2 separate regions of the Homo sapiens genome follow, and region 2 is linked to region 1. Evidence: fine-mapped expression QTL. A gene starts in region 1. The other region holds a variant in brackets. All regions are shown on one strand. Distances are from middle to middle.

What was found.
Region 2: its variant is fine-mapped to the expression of MATN4 in minor salivary gland (GTEx, PIP 0.94).

Annotation. Positions count from the first base shown.
Region 1 is chr20:45,305,473-45,310,838 of GRCh38, forward strand. It overlaps MATN4 (matrilin 4), which reads right to left and starts at 2,827. Exons shown (of 10, transcript NM_001393530.1): 1 at 2,703-2,827; 2 at 38-144. The coding sequence starts at 110. It overlaps RBPJL (recombination signal binding protein for immunoglobulin kappa J region like), which reads left to right and starts at 1,368. Exons shown (of 12, transcript NM_014276.4): 1 at 1,368-1,472; 2 at 2,671-2,779; 3 at 4,095-4,220. The coding sequence starts at 1,451.
Region 2 is chr20:44,700,763-44,706,128 of GRCh38, forward strand. No RefSeq gene overlaps it. Among named protein-coding and RNA genes, the nearest start is that of CCN5, 12 kb to the right of the region's middle. RefSeq lists an enhancer at 2,035-2,114. The variant G/A (reference allele first, on the strand shown) is at 2,583.

The sequences.
Region 1 (5,366 bases):
CCCTCCTCCCACTGGTGAGGGCTGGGCCCCAGTTCACCTGTCAACTGGAGCTGGGTTTCCCAGGGCTGAAGAAGGAGCAGCAACACGGGCCAGCAAAGAAGGCCTCTCATGGCGCTTGGGGACAGAGAATGGAGGTGTCAGAGCCTGGAGGGAGGAAGGAAAATAGAAAAGCAACAGTATTTACAGAGCTCTTATTCTGGGTGATAGGCACTTGGAGGGGGAAGACAGTTACAGGTTTATTTTACTAATCTCTCTATTTTTGTGTATGTTTGAAATGTTTCAGAATTAAAAAATTCTCATCACAGTGGGATTGCTGGGAAACACAAGAGATTCTTTTTTTTTTTTTTTTTAGATAGAGTCTTGCTCTGTCGTCCCGGCTGGAGTGCAGTGGCATGATCTCGGCTCACTGCAACCTCTGCCTCCCAGGTTCAAGCGATTCTCCGGCCTCAGCCTCCCGAGTAGCTGGGATTACAGGCTCCTGCCACCACACCTGGCTAATTTTTTGTATTTTTAGTAGAGAGCGGGTTTTGCCATGTTGGTCAGGCTGGTCTCAAACTCCTGACCTCAGGTGATCCTCCCACCTCGGCCTCCCAGAATGCTGGGATTACAGGCGTGAGCCACCGCGCTCGGCCCACAAGAGAATGGTAAATAAGAATAGATACATAGATACAAATATGCAAAATTTAAACAGAAAAAAACAGGTCTTCCTTAAATGTCAGGCACAGTGTTAAATGCTCTTCACGCATTGTGGCATTTAATCCTCTCTGCAATTGTAAGACTAAGGCTGTGATTGTCCCCCATCATACAGACAATGAAATTGAGGCTCAGAAAAGTTAAGCGCTGGTACCCAAAGTCATTCGGCCAAAAAGTGGCTGCGGCAGGATACAATCCCACGCCTGCTAGTTTCTGTGAGCCAGCCTGGGCGTTTGGTGCCTCTCCTCCTGCCAGGCGAACCTCTGCAGACAGAAGCCCTTCCCCACCTCGGCCCACTCCCCTACGCACACAGGCTTCTGTGTGGCTGTCTTTGCAACTCGCCAACCCCCCCAGACCCCTCCACACACACAAACACAGACATGCACTGCCCAACCGCAGGCGGCAGGGAGGGGCTGCGCCCTGTTGCGGGGCTGAGCGTGGTGGCGTGGCAGCGAGTGGACCAAAACCCACTGCGCACGAGAACGCGCGGCTTGGCGCCTGTTTCCCGCCTGCTCTCAGGAGCGACCGCCAGGGGGCGCCCGAGATGGCAGGGGGCGTGGGAAGCCCACATCTGCCCAGCAGGTGCGCCCACCCCGAGCAAACAGGGGGCCGGGGCCCGGGGCCTTGGAGATAAGGCCTGGACAGGATATAACCCGCGCAAGAGCCGAGGAGCAGGGGTGTGCAGGGTTCCAGCGACAGCAGCACTGGACTCGTCCAGAGGGCGGCGGGTGAGCGGCTGGGGCCCCGTGGAGCCACCATGGACCCCGCAGGGGCAGCAGGTGAGCGCTTACCCTCCCGAGGCCCCGGAGACGCCCCGTGAGAACTACGAAGGACCACCCCCCCACCCCCTCCCCACTATACAAATAGGAAAACTAAGCCCCAAGGAGGCAGCCCGCCGAACTGCAAAAGCAGGATTAGAACCTAGGGCTCCTGGTTCCCCTTCTCTCTCTTGAGGCCCCCTGGCGCCTAGAATTCACTAAACCTCATTTCCTTCCAGCTCCTACCCCACCGCCGCGCCCCATGCTGAAGCTGTGTTAGCCATTTTTCTGTTGCTGTTTCTTGGCAGAGAGGGCCAGCTGCCCCTAACCCAACAGCAGCTCCGCCCCCGCCCCCCAATTCCGTGAATGCGCCTATTCTGAGCGAGGCCAGTGCCTGCTTCTCACTCCAGGCGACCTTCTCATCCCGGATTCTTCTCCCTTTTCCCCTCCCAGGCCTGGTAGAAGAACATAAATCCTCTGGCAGGGCCCGTCGTGGGAGGGTGACCAAGCAAGATGTGGCAGCGCTGGTGGAAGTGGGAGGGCGGGGAACCCTTGTCAAGCTTGGGCCACAGGCAAAGCCAACATCCCTGGACAGCATGAGGGCTAAGGCACAAGGGGCCTCTGCCACCTCCCATACTTTCCTACCCGGAGATGCCTCTGGGCCCCTAAATCTTGGTTAAGGTTCCCCTCATCCCATTCTTGGTCTGAGCCAACTTCTCACCTGGCACCCTGCCTCCACCCCAGGAATCCTAGAAAGTCAAAATAGCAAATGCCTCAAAGTTCATCACCTTTCCAAACCCCTCATTCTACAAAGAAAGGAACTAGGTCCAGAGAGGGTAGTGTCTTGCTGAAGGGTACATGGCGATGTCGTGGCAGGACTGATACTAGAACCTGGGATTCCTCTGAGGAGTTAATCCTTGCATTAAAAAAAGAAAGATTCAGAGATGCCCTGAGGTGAGGTTGAGGGAGTGGAGCAGCAAGGGAGGAGAGGCCTGTAAATAAATTCTCAAAAGTCCCTTAGGGACATTTCAGGGGGTTCCTGGAGGGATGAGAGTAGAAAAGGGATGATCCTATTTTGATGGCTTTGAGGGTGGGGGCTCGATTTGGAAAGGACCCTGCAGAAGTGGGGAAGGGCACTGCAAATCAGATAGGGCACCCTAGGCAGCGTCTCTGCTAAAATACACTCGCCTGACCTGGCTTGATGCCTACTCCCCTGCAGACCCCTCAGTGCCTCCCAATCCTTTGACTCACCTGAGCCTGCAGGACAGATCAGAGATGCAGCTGCAGAGCGAAGCCGACAGGCGGAGCCTCCCGGGCACTTGGACCAGGTAACGGCGGCGTGGCAGCGTGCCCTAGGTGGGGACTGCCAGGCAGCTGGAGCACACAGAGGCAACGGCCGCATTTAACCCAGGGCTGGCGGGTGGGGAGGGGAAGTGCAGGCTGCAACCCCTCCCACTGGCAGGGAGGGATCCCCCCTTCCTCCTGAGGGGGGGCAAACCCAGCACCCCCTGCTCCTACCACGCTTGGAGCTGCAGACAGGGCTAGCTGCGGGCCAGGCTGGAATTCAGCTACAGCGGGAGACTGGGGAGACCGGGGCAGCCACACTCCACAGCCGGAATTCATTGGAAGCTTAGAAGGCACTTCCCTGAGGAGAGCCCCAAGGGGTGGAGCGGTCCTGGCTGTGGCTGCTGCCTGTCTGGCCTGGCTTTCGAGGGTGCGGTCTTGCGCTGTCCCCTCCAGGAGTGAGGAGAGACTCTGGTCCTGCCAAGAGGAATAAGGGCTCAGAAGGACAGCCTCAGTTTTCATGGCTCTCCTTGGGCCTCAACCTGCTAACCCCCCAAATCTCTCCCACCTCCCCTCCTCTACTTGCTCCCTGCAATTGCTCGGGCCTACCCACCCACACCGCTCAAGACCCCCAGGTTAAGAAGCCACCAGACCTCTAGGCTCTAACCTGGCTCACTCTGCAGGACCAATGTCATCTGCCTTGACTCCTGTAATCAAGGGTAGGAAAGCCCACACAGCAACAGGCCACTTCTCATGGGAGAAAGGGAAGAATATGGCTTTGGCCCCAGAAAGGCTCAGATTCCCCCAGGCCATCCCCCATCCTGAGGACAAGGTTTTGGGCCCTTTTCTGTTTGCAGGCAGGAGGCTAGAGAGCGCTCCAGGCCAGGAGCCCAGGAAAGGCTCTCCCTTCCCCTCCCTCCTCACCCCCCACCCTGCCTTCCCCAGGGTGGGGAAGCTTCATCTCTACCAATTCCATCAGCCCTAAAATACTCTTCTCCATCCCAAGGCCAGTATAAGTGCAGCCTTTGTGTCACAGCCACGTGTCCCTATGGCCCTGGGCTCCAATGGGCATGATGCCAGACCCACAGAGTGGAACCTGGGTGGTCCCATGGGTTCCATGCAGGCTTCGTTGAGCACCTTGCAGCCTAAATATTTAGCCTACAATTTGCAGCCAAGTCTCCTCCTTACCTAATGCTTCCTCTTCCTGACCCCACAGGGGCAGGATATAGAGCAGCCCCACCCTCCCACTCACTCTAACCCCCTGCTCACTTCATTTTACTCAACCTGAGTGCTTGGACCCTGTGCCACCTTGACCCTTCTCCCTCCTGTGGCTGGTCGACCTGCCTGCCCTACTCCCAGGTCATCCCCAGAGCACACCACCATTCTGAGGGGAGGCGTGCGCAGGTGCCTGCAGCAACAGTGTGAACAGACTGTGCGGATCCTGCATGCCAAGGTGGCCCAGAAATCATACGGAAATGAGAAGCGGTAGGTGCCTCCGCAGCCCCTCCCAGGTCTCTGCAACTGTCAGCCCTATGCACCTCCTCCATCCACCCATTGGGCCTCTTTTAGACGCAGAGCAGGCCTCAGGGCTGAGATCTCAGCTATTGGTCGACCAGGGCCTTGACCCTCAGCCACCATTAGCCCCCACTTTGGTCTATAGTTCTACAGCAGGAGATTCCCTGTGAATCTCCTGTCTCCATTCATTCACTCATTCTCCCATTGATTCACTTATTCATTCATTCAACAACTACTTACTGAGTGTTTGTCATGTATGCACCAGGCTCTGTGGGTACTGCTGGGCACTGGGCATACAGCTGAACAAGACAGAAACAGCCCCTGCTCTGTAGCCCACACTCTCACTCAAGTGTGGAAGAGACAGACAGTAAACTCCCCACAAGTCAGGAAACAAGATACTTGCAGATTATGATGAGCACTAGAAGGAAAACTGAACGAGGCCATTTGACGGAAACTGAAGGCAGGGGGGACATTAGCTAGAAAGGTCAAGGAGGTTGAGAGACCTTTTGGGAGGTAACATTGGAACTGAAACTTGAATGCTGAAATGGAGCCAGACAGGAGAATATCTGGGGAAAGCGTGCTACAATTAGAAGGAACAGAAGGGCCGGGCGCGATGGCTCACACCTGTAATCCCAGCACTTTGGGAGGCCGAGGCGGGCGGATCACCTGAGGTCAGGAGTTCGAGACCAGCCTGGCCAATACAGTGAAACCCCCTCTCTACCAAAAAATACAAAATTAGCTGGGCATGGTGGCGGGCACCTGTAATCCCAGCTGCTCAGGAGGCTGAGGCAGGATAATTGGTTGAACCCGGGAGGCGGAGGTTGCAGTGAGCCGAGATCATGCCACTGCACTCCAGCCTGGCGACAGAGCAAGACTCAGTCTCAAAAAAAAAAAGGGCAACAGAAAATGGGAAGACCTTGAGGCTGTACCAATTAGGCCTGTTTGAGGTACAAAAGAAATGACAGTGGCTGAAATCAGAGGGAGGAGTTGTAGGAAACAAGTCAGAGAGGTAAGCAGGGGTCAGATCTCAGGAGGACTTTGAATTTTAAACCAGTGGAGGATTTTAAGGAGTTAACATGATTTGACTCATGTTTTTAACAAAACACTCTGGCCAGC
Region 2 (5,366 bases), 600 kb before region 1:
CTGTGCCTCCTCCCTGCTGGCAGCCACTGTGGCCACAATGGGGTTAACCCCAGAGGAAGGCATTGAAGGCGCTGGGGCTGGGGTGGGAAGGAAGGCATATTTCGGGGCTCCAAGGACTTGAAGCCTAGCTGCTCCATGCCCAGGCTCTGGGACCCCCCAATACATGCACACATTGTTTAAAATGAAGTGGAACTCCAGGCAGGCAAGTTTTGATTTAGGGGAGACAGCTCCTCCATGGTAATGATACTGAGCCTTGTTATTTGAGCAAATAGGTTTTCTCCCAGCCTCTCACTCCTTTCTTTGTAATTCATCTTCCATCCTGGCCACATGCAGGCCCTGCTTGGAACTCTCTGGGGACTCCTACCCCACAGGATAGTCTAAAACCCTGCCCCGGTATTCAAGGCTGTTTGCAGATGTTCCTCAACCCCACCACCTGTTGCTCCCAAAATTCACACACCCCAGACCTGCACACCACAGTTGTTGCTATTCCACACACAGGTCGCTGGGAGCAGCGCACGGCCCAGCCCCGCCTTTCTGCAAGTGGATCCCTCTGCCTGGAAAGTCCTCCCTCCCCTCCTCTGGATCCTCCTGGGTCAGGCTGGGTGCTCCTCTGAACTCCCAGGCTGAGGGTTGCTGTGTAATTTGATACTACATTGACATTGCAGGAAGATCATGTATGGCTGAGTAGCTAAAAATGCAGGCTTTGAACTTGGATGTGGGTTCAGCCTCAGCTGTATCTCCCGCCAGCTGTGGGACATTGGGCTGGCGTCTCTGAGCCTCAGTTTGCTTCTCTGAACATAGAATGATACGCCCTACTCCATTAAGGTGCTGAGGGTGAAGGAAACCACGGGCTCAGTGTGGGCAGCTTGGCCAGGGCTCCAAGCGCATCGGGTGTTCATGTAGTCCTTCTAGTGCCAGGCGGTCATTAGCAACTTGGTGCCAGTCTCTGAGCTGGTCTCCAGGACGGAGCAGTGGAGGGACCATGTAGCCCCTGCTCCCACAAACACAGACATTGGACAGCCAATTAGTTACCCCAGTTCGTTACCATGGAGACTATAATTAGGGATTATAGTCACCCTGCCCAAGCGCACAGGCCTCACCTCCCATCCTTGCCTTAGCTTTGAAGCTCCCTGGAGCAGGATCTAAACTGGATTTGTCTCTGTAACCTCAGTTCCTCATTATTCATGGTCGGAATGCTCAGCAAACGTTTAAGTGGAAGAGATTTCCATAACAAACACTTGGGAGTTCAGAGGAGCACGCGGTCCAACCTGAACAGAGCAGGAGGATCTCAGAGGAGGGAGGCCACTAGGTAGGATGCGGCGGCACTAAGGGTAGCACTTAGTTTGTGACAAGGACTGTTCCAAGCACACCACTTGGATCATCTATTAAATTCTCACTTATTTATTTATTTATTTTAAAATTGTGTTTATTTATTTATTTATTTATTTATTTATTTGTTTGTTTTGAGATGGAGTCTCGCTTTCCAGGCTGGAGTACAGTGGCACAATCTTGGTTCACTGCAGCCTCTTCCTCCCAGGTTCAAGCGATTTTCCTGCCTCAGCCTCCCAAGTAGCTGGGATTACAGGCATGTGCCACCACGCCCGGCTAATTTTTGTATTAAGAGATGAGGTTTCGCCATGTTCACCAGGCTGATCTCGAACTCCTGACCTCAAGTGATCTGCCCGCCTTGGCCTCCCAAAGTGCTAGGATTACAGGCTTGAGCCACTGCGCCCAGCCAGTGATCACTTATTTAGATCACTTACTAAAATCATTTAATTATGTCAACACCTCTGTGAAGTATGTACTGTTATCACCATTCCCATTTCATAGATGGGGAAACTGAGGCACAGAAAAGCTAAGTAAACTGCTCAGAGTTACAGAGCCTGCGAGGGCCACAGCCAGAATTCAAACCCAGGCCATCTGCCTCCACAGTCCACTTTCTATGTCCCTCTCCCGAGATGATGTCCCTTTCCCAGGGGTGTCTGGAAAGGGTCTGGCCCCTGGTCCCAGCTCAAGCAGCTGTCCAGGGAAGCCTGAAGACCTGGCCCATCTCCACTGCCCACCGGGCTTCTCTGCGCTCCACTTCCCAGGTGGACTGTGGAGGCAAATAAGGCCCCAGCTGCAGCCTCTGAAGACTCCTGCCAAGCTGGCACTTTGAGGCCTGGGGGTGTCCCAGGGGATCCCAGCCCAGCAGCTGGGCTGACCTCAGGGCCAGTGTTTCCGTAAACACCCGGAGAGCCAGCCCCACGTGGTTGATCTGTGGGTTGCTGGCCAAGAGGGGCTGAGGTTTGGCTGACCTCGTGCGGTTTCTTTCAACAAGGCTACTTCCACCCCCTCCGCCTGGCTGGGCTTCCAGTAATGAAGTGTTTTCTCTGGGGCTAGGGGAGCTGATGGGGCTGGTGGCGTGGGGCACTGGGGTCTTCCTGTCCCACGTGCCCTCCACCCTGGGCTTCTGGAAGCTGGTCTAGATGCCCCTAGCTGCCGCCTGGGCAGCCCATATGCCCACGCCGGTCCCTGATAGTGAACTGGCCCGTAAGGGGACCAGGTCTCGGGATCTGAGCATGGAGCAGGGGCTGCGCCCA[G/A]GAGATAGGGTGTGGCTAGACTTTCCCCTGCTGGTCCTTTCCGGGGATCTGAGGGGAAACTTCTCCTGGGGACACACCCGGGTAGCTCAGAGATGGAAGAAAAGGTCTCCATTACAGCTGCCACCTCTTCCCCACCCAAAGAGAGTGTCCGCAGGGGGCCGTGGGGCAGGAGTGAGTACTGAAGGAATACTAACCACGATCACTGCTACCATCTCCTGAATGTCACTGCCCCAGCCCTTTAATTCTCACAACAAACCTTGGAAACTGAGGCTTAGAGAGAGGAAGTGGCTGGCCCAAGGTCACATAGTGAGTAAATGAGCAGAGCTTCTCCCCCTTTCCCTTGAATCACCTCTATCTTCCTGTCCAGATGCCAGGCAGCAGGAACTAGCAGGTGCTTTTGGGTCATCTTTTAAGAGGCAATATAGCACAATGAGTGAGAGCAGGGACTCAAGGGCCAGCCACCTGGGTTCAAATCCCAGCTCTGCTTCCTACTGGCTATGTGACCTTGGGCAAGTCACTCAACTTCTTGGTTCCTCAGTCTCCCCACCTGTATAATGAGGATAATAATGATGCCTCCTTTAGGGGGTTTCTGTGAGGATTGCATATACACGTGACACATAATAAGCCCTGTGCCATGCTAGTTATCCCAGCCTCTCACTCTTCCCATTGAAAAGGTGAAGACACAGACCCAGAGATGGAGGCAAATTCTGCAGGGGTCATGCCCGGGGCAGAGCATGGTTCAGCTATGTCTCCTATGGTGCTGCCAAGGAGCCACCATGGGCTTGAGCTGAGAGGAGCCACCTGGCACCGGACACGTGACCTCCTCGAGGGAAGGGAGGCTCTGCAGAGAGCAGGGGATGGTGGAGGAGCCTGGCTTTATCTTCCATCCTTCAGGAGCGGGGAAGGGCAGTGTCAGAGCCAGGAGAGGAGAGAAGCGAATGAACGTGCTGTGTGAGCTCCAGTCAGTCCCTACTGACTCTGGGCCTGTCACTCCTGCTGAGGGACTCGGGTGTTTGGACTTTTAGACTTGGAGGGGCTCCTCGGTGGGGCCTTGGGGGCTGCTCTGGGTGAGGGCTCTCACCATTTGCTTCATCCCAAACCACTGTCCTTGGGCCTGTTTTAAATATTAGAGTGTAGCATGGGGTTTTGCTGCTCTAACAAAGGGTCAGCCATCTTGAGAAGGAGGCTCTGTGATGAGCAGGGAATGGGGCTCCCCTGCCCCCCCGAGACCCTGGGGCCCAAGCTGATGACTGGCCAGTGACTCACTCCCTTCTCAGCATGTCCTGTCATCCCATGACTGGGAGCCCCTCGGGGGTGGCTCCTAACCAAGGTCCCCCTGACCAAGGCCTCCCCCCACCCTCCCCCTAACACACATAGAGACTGGGAACAATTAACTCCCTCCTAAGGCCAGACCAGATGTTCACGTGGGCATTGGTTTTGTTGACCACATGTGACTCAGGAGCTCCCTCAGAGCTGGAAGAGTCCCAAGAGGCTAAAAGGGCAACCTGTCACGTCACAGCTGGGAAACTGAGTCCCAGAGAAGCCAGGTGAGTTGCCTAACATCCCTCAGGGGTAGAAGGGAGGAAGGAACCTGGAGTTCCCATGCCTGACCCAGAGGCTTTCTACCTCTCCAAATAGTTCTCGGATGTGCCCAAGGCCTCAGTCCCCATTCCTACCTCCAGTTGCAAATGTCCTCCCCAACTACACAGAGCCTCTCAGCTTCATCCCACCCCACCTCCAACTGGCTCTCATGGTTTCATCCAGGCTCAGCTACTTGCAGCTCCCCAAATAGCTCCTGCTGTCAGGCCACCTCCAGGCCTTTGTACTCTCCTGCTGCTCTGTTTTATTTTCCTCTTCACCTGGACAACTCCTAATCTTGCTCCAAGACTCATCTCAGGTGTCACCTTCTCCAGGAAGCCTTTCAAAACCACCTCCTCCACCTCCCAGGCTGGGTTAGGTCCTCCATCTCTTCACCCTCAGTACCTAGTATCTCCCACTTACTGTGCTGGAATCATCTCTTTGCTTGTCTCTATATTGCCCTCTAGTCTGTGAGCTCATTGTGGACAGAGACCTTAGTTTTTATTCTTAATAGTAGGGAATGACCTATTACATTCGGTGTTTGCTGAATGAATGCATAAGTGGATGGATGGATGAATGAATGAATGGTTGGATGGAAGAATAGATACATGGATGGATGGATTGATGGATGGATGGAATGAGTGACCAAATGGTAGATGAATGGACAAATGGACCGACAAACATGGAAGGATGGATGGATGGACAGATGGATTGATGGACAGGTGGATTGATGGACAGGTGGGTCGATGGGCAGGTGGATGAATAAATCAGGCAGATAATGGCATCTGTAGGGACTCAGACAGTGAGGGCTAAGTCCCTGGAGCCTGGATATCCTGACTGATGAAGGTGCTCTTGGATGGGAAGGGAATAACCTAACCTGTTGTCTTCCTACTCCAAGAGATATTTGGTCCAGAACAAAGCCACCCCTGCCCTGGTGCCTGCTCCCTTCTGACCAACAGGTTCCAACTCAGTGGGGTCTCCTGAACTCTGGTAACTCATCTGACACCAGAGCCTATAGGAATCACCCTGTCTCTGACATTCAGGGATTCTGCATTCCTGAGGCCCTCCCTCCCTGCCTCTCTTCAGGTCAGAGCTGCCGCCCCATAAATGCTTTCAAGCATAGAAACATACACCCCTAGAGCCAGGAAGTTGTAAAAATGATGGGATTCACCCCTCTACCATTTTTGCAGATGAAGAAACTGAGGC